Linked DNA regions of Homo sapiens: region 2 is linked to region 1. Evidence: fine-mapped expression QTL. A gene starts in region 1. The other region holds a variant in brackets. All regions are shown on one strand. Distances are between the middles of the regions. Region 1 holds the start of PLEKHO2 (pleckstrin homology domain containing O2). Region 2 has its middle 32 kb from the start of PLEKHO2.

Region 1 (3,004 bases):
TCTCTCCTTCCTCTCTCTTTCTTTTCTATTCTTTCTTTTTCTTGACCAGTGTGATAATATCAGCCTCAATTTTCTTCATTCCTTTAGCTAAAGGATCCCAGGCCTAGGCATGAGGGAGAAGTGTACCTGCATCTCCTTCCCCCTTGGCCTGGGAGCCCCAGGCTGCCCTTTTCCGTACAGGGCTGGAAGTAGCCTGGGAGCCTGAGGGCTGGCAGAAGGCCGTGAAAGGGGAGCTTGGTCGCTGGCACAGCCGCTGCTATGGCAGCCAGAGCCGAAGAAGGTCACCATTGATCTCACATGCACTTAATTTTCCCTTCCTTGGCATGGGACGGGGTTGACCAGGAGAGCTAAGGGGGAGTATGCGTGTGTGTGTGAGAGGGGAGCGGTGCTGCAGGCTGCGATGCAGCCAGTTACTTTCTCTCTCTGGGCCTCAGTTTCTCCAATGTAAAATGAGGGCGCATGGTATAACTAAAATCATTACTCTCTGCTGGTCCCCACACTCCCACTCTCCAGTAAGGCTGTCAGGGCTGCAAGCTCACCGCGGGATCGGGGGGATGGTCGACCCTCAGATACGGGAGGGATTGAGCGATGCCCAAGGAGAGCAGGAGAACACTGCGCTTGGAGACCCCTGAGAGCCAGGGGCGGGCCGCCCCCTAAAGGGACCCCGGAGTCCCGACTCTCAGCTCCAGCTCTTCCTGTGACACCACCCTCCGGACAGAGACCCAAGCTCCAGGCCCGGCCCCGCCCAGAGGTTCCAGGGAGAAGACCAGGCCACCGCCCACTGCCCGGCGTCGGGGAGGAAAGAGGAGGAGCCTCTGTGTGCCCACATCTCTGGCCGCCCAGGGCAGCTCGGCTCGGTCTCGCAACCCCAGCCCACTGGTTCGGGAGACCTCAAAGGCTCCACCGCCAGCGCCCCCAGCGCTCACTGTGTGCGCCCCACCCCAGCCCTGCCTGCGCGCCGCTCCCGCCACCCTCGCCTCAGTCTCTGGGCCGGAAGCCCCCTCTCCTCCCCCGCCGCAGCCCCCTCCTAGTCCCTCTCCCTCCGCCGATGCGGGAAACCTTCTCCGCCCCGTCCCGCCCTCTTCCTCCAGTTGCATCTCCGCCCGGCTCCTCCGTCCAGTCTCCAACCCAGGCCCCGCCCCTCCCCACCCATTTCCCGCCCTGGGCCGGGCCCCCGGCCCCACCGCCCCCTCCCCGGCCCCGCCCCGGCCCCCGGAAGCCTCACCCCGCCCCCGGCCCCGCCCCCCCGAAGTTTCTTGGGCCCCCGGCAGCCGGCGGGACAGAACGCGGAGAGTCGCCGCCTGGCCGGGCGTAGACGCGGTGGCAGAGCCCGCGCGGCGCTGGAAGCGAGTGGCGGAGCGGCGGGACCTCGGCGGACTCGCCATGGAGGAGGAGGTGAGGGCGGGGCCCGGCGGGGCGTTGGGCTGGGGTCCTCGAGCCCCTCACGGGGATTGCGGTCCTGGGCTCAGGCCCTCGTTCCTGCCCGCCCCACTCCCGCCAGTCTCACCTCAGGAAGAGCCTGGGCAAATGGGGCAGGGGCGAGGGGCTGGATCCATATCGGGGACTTCGCAGACCGCGTCCTCCTTCATTCTCGCTGACTTTCTCACCAGTTGTGGGGCGTCGTGGTTGTTACCGTTCCCATTGGATTGACCAGGAGACTGAGACTCCAGCGAGATTGATGACTTGCTGAAAGTGGCCTGGGTGACTGGGCTCGAACCCCGATTACCGTGGTCGGATCCTGACTCTCTCTCTCTCTCTGTGTGTGTGTGTGTGTGTGTGTGTGTGTGTGTCGGATCCTGACTGTGTGTGTGTGTGTATGTGTGTGTTGGGGGGTTCCTGTCTCAAGGATCGGATCCTGACTCTGTGTGTGTGTGTATGTGTGTGTTGGGGGGTTCCTGTCTCAAGGATGTGACCATGCTTTGGTGGCAGGAGGATTGGAGAAGTTGCTTTTTTCTCCCTTGTATAAGTCTCTGTATCTTTTCCCCCACTCTCTCCCCGCTCCACATCCATCTGAGCAGCTAGCTGTAGGGAAGGAATCGGGAGTCCGGCCCACCTAGGGTCTGATCTTAGTCCCTGCCTTCCCCACCCGAGGGCTGGACCAACTGTGTCCCTGGAGCCTCCTTCTAACCACTCAAAACACTCTTGGCCTGGGATTGGGTCTTGCCCCTGCCCCTGCCCTTTACTTGCAAACTCAGTTCTGCCAGCAGCCGCTTTATCCGAGGGTCCAGCACGCAGCAAGCACTTAATATATGCCTGTGGAATGATTAAGTTAAAATGAGGGGCCTGTTGGGTCTAGAGGAAGGTGAATTTGTTTCTTATCCCCTGAGGGGGTCCCAGCTTCAGCCCCTCTCAGCCCAAGGGAAGGGGCATGTCTTTGCCTCCTTGGATGGGGAGGAAAGATGAAGTTCTCTGCCTTGGGGGAACCCTGGCCAGCTGGGAAGCCCTGAGTGGACCGGACTGCCTGTGTCCCTTCAGTGCCCACCTCCCACTTTTCCAGGGCCATGGATAGGAGCAGCTAGTGGTCCGTCAGGGCTCCCTCTAGGCCAGGCCCTGCCTTTCTGTGGGATGGTAGATAAGTCACTTCCCCTCTCAGCCTTCATTTCCTCTTCTACAAAATATAGTGCCTGTCCTCCTCATACTCCTGGCCTGACAGTGGCCGGTTCTCTCAGTGGGTGAAGGTAGGGGGCAAAGTCAGGCCTCTGTGATTTGCTGCGGTTTCTTTCTGGCTGTTAGGTGGGGCTGCCATCTGCCTGCCCCAGGCCCCTGCTGCAAGGGCTGGGCTCTCTGGCCAGGGCCCCTCCCCTGCTCCCAGAGGATGTGGGTCAGGATTACTCCATCTCCTGATCTGCGCTGGCCCCTGATTAAGGGAAGTTCTCCGGACACCTCCTGGGCCCGGCTCAGCTCTGTACACCCTTGGTCCTGAATCTCTCACATTGTCACTTTCTTTTCTTTTTTTTTTTTTTTGAGACGGAGTTTCGCTCTTGTTGCCCAGGCTGGAGTGCAG
Region 2 (2,500 bases), 31 kb after region 1:
CCCAGGACAGGGGGAGGGGCAACCAGATTGCCCCTTCCTCTACCCCTGCCTAGGCCCTGGCGGCATCCTGTCTCGGGAGTCACTGTGTTTTGTTCCCTTCTCCCTGTCTTGTCTTCCTGCCTCCCCACCCCTACCCTCATGTCCCAGACAAAAGGGGTGTCAGAAAAGACAAACTCACTCCACAGAGGTTTCTGTGACCAAGGAGGCTCTGTGATGGAACATGGATGGTGGAGAGGTGATGATGGAAATTCCTCCCTGTTGACATAATTTAACAAAATTCTTAGAGGAAACAGCAGGATGTAAGTAGAGAAAACATGACTTCAGGTTTGGAGGCAGACACACCTGGATTCAAACCCCAGGGGTAGCCAGGTGCAGTGGCTCACACCTATAATCCCAGCACTTTGGGAGGCTGAGGTGGGTGGATCACCTGAGGTCAGGAGTTCGAGACCAGCCTGGCCAACACGGGAAAACTCCGTCTCTACTAAAAATACAAAATTAGCCAGGAGTGGTGGCAGGCGCCTGTAGTCTCAGCTACTCAGGAGGCAACAGAGTGAGACTATGTCTCAAAAAAAAAAAAAAAAAAAAGAAAAGAAAATGCTTAATAAACTCCAGCAGCCTGGCCTCACAGAGCACCTACTGTTTGCCAGGCCTGTTAACCTCTCACAGTCACCACAGTGGCCTCACAAGGAAGATGTAATTTCACTCCATTTTACAGGTTAAGAAACTGAGGCTTAAGCAACTTAGGTAGGGGACCAAAGTTAGTGTCAGGACCTGGGATTTGACCCTCCTGGGGTTTTGGCCTGGGGCCACAACTGACTGCTTTCTGCTATTTGTCTGGAGGGTCTGTGATTTCAGATGGAGGCTCACCCCAGAGTCCTTGGGGCACCCCCACCTTTCCTGGCACTGGGAGGATACCCCAAGGCCTGGGCAGGTTCTCCACCAGCTGGCTATGGCCCAAAGGAGAGGCTTCGGAGGACTTTCCCTTATAAGGACAACAGCTCAGCTGTGATGAAACTTCTCAGCCTCCTAGCTGGGGAGGCGGGAGAGGGGAAATGA[C/T]GGTGGCTCCAAGGGTTACAGCTGAGTTTGAGCCTCCTCAGGAACTTGCCCACAAGCCTCCACTCTCTGTTGTCATAATTTTATGGGAGGAGGGGCCAGGCAGGGCTTGGGACCAGAGGGGGTGGCCCACAGAAGGGAAGATGCCTACATTGAGGCCTAGGGAGGAGACAGGACCCTTCAACATCCAGCAGGCAGCTTGCAGATCTGGACTCCAAGCCGTAGGCCTATCTGGCTTCAAACTCACACTCACCCTGGGGAGGATTATCAGAGGGTCCAGAAGGCTATTAGGCCAGCCATCCCTTTCTCTCTTTTGTTTTTTGTTTTTTTTTGAGATGGAGTCTCGCTCTGTCACCCAGGCTGGAGTGCAGTGGCACAATCTCGGCTCACTGCAAGCTCCGCCTCCCGAGTTCATGCCATTCTTCTGCCTCAGCCTCCCGAGTAGCTGGGACTACGGGCGCCCGCCCCAGGATGGTCTAGATCTCCTGACCTCGTGATCTGCCTGCCTTGGTCTCCCAAAGTGCTGGGATTACAGGTGTGAGCCACCACGCCTGGCCTCCCTTTTTATTTATTTATTTATTTATTTGAGACCCGGTCTTGCTCTGTGGCCCAGGCTGGAGCCAGGCTGGAGTGCAGTGGCACGATCTTGGCTCACTGCAACCTCCTCCTCCTCCTGGGTTCAAGCAATTCTCCTGCCTCAGCCTCCCGAGTAGCTGGGACTACAGGCACCCACCACCACGACCAGCTAATTTTGTATTTTTAGTAGAGACGGGGTTTCACCGTGTTGGCCACGTTGGTTTCGAATTCCGGACCTCAGGTGATCCACCTGCCTCGGCCTCCCAGAGTGCTGGGATTATAGGCGTCAGCCACCGTGCCCGGCCCCTTTCTCCCTTTGGACCTCTAAAGTGGAGTCTTAAAGAGCAGGGTGTGTGGGGCTGGTCTGCTTTTGGCCTTCCTCCCCATGAAGCCTGTGTCCCTAGGGGACTGCCCTCCCCAACACAATTCGTCAGCCCACCGTCCAGTCTGAGAAACTATTCCATCCATGGAATCACAGGATATTGGGGCTGATAAGGATCTTTGAGACGTCTAGTCTCACCTGCTGGTTTTAGAGAGGAGGAAATAACAGCTCAGAGCGGCCAGGGGAGGTGGTGGCTCATATGTGTAATTCCAGCACTTTGGGAGGCTGAGGTGGGCAGATGTCTTGAGGCCAATCTTCAAGGCTTGAGACCAGCCTGAGCAACATGGCAAAATCCTGTCTCTACAAAAAAAAATTAGCAGGGCATGGTGATGCAGGCCGAAGTGGGAGGATCGCTTAAACCTGGGAGGCGGAGGTTGCAGTCAGCTGAGATCGTGCCACTGCCATCTCAAAAAAAAAAAACAAAAGCTCAGAGGGGACCTGGTATTGCCCATTTGTTTTGTTAAAATGTGTGTGTGTGTGTGTGTGTGT

Evidence for each region. PIP is the estimated chance that this variant, and not a neighbour inherited with it, causes the effect.
Region 2: its variant is fine-mapped to the expression of PLEKHO2 in tibial artery (GTEx, PIP 0.98). The same link has a PIP of 0.9 or more in whole blood.

What each region holds. Positions count from the first base shown.
Region 1 is chr15:64,840,634-64,843,637 of GRCh38, forward strand. It overlaps PLEKHO2 (pleckstrin homology domain containing O2), which reads left to right and starts at 1,282. Exons shown (of 6, transcript NM_025201.5): 1 at 1,282-1,395. The coding sequence starts at 1,384. It also overlaps a transcript of LOC124903508 not described here. RefSeq lists silencers at 805-1,124, 1,135-1,574 and enhancers at 1,382-1,905, 1,938-2,489.
Region 2 is chr15:64,872,181-64,874,680 of GRCh38, forward strand. No RefSeq gene overlaps it. Among named protein-coding and RNA genes, the nearest start is that of PLEKHO2, 32 kb to the left of the region's middle. RefSeq lists enhancers at 816-905, 926-975. The variant C/T (reference allele first, on the strand shown) is at 1,057.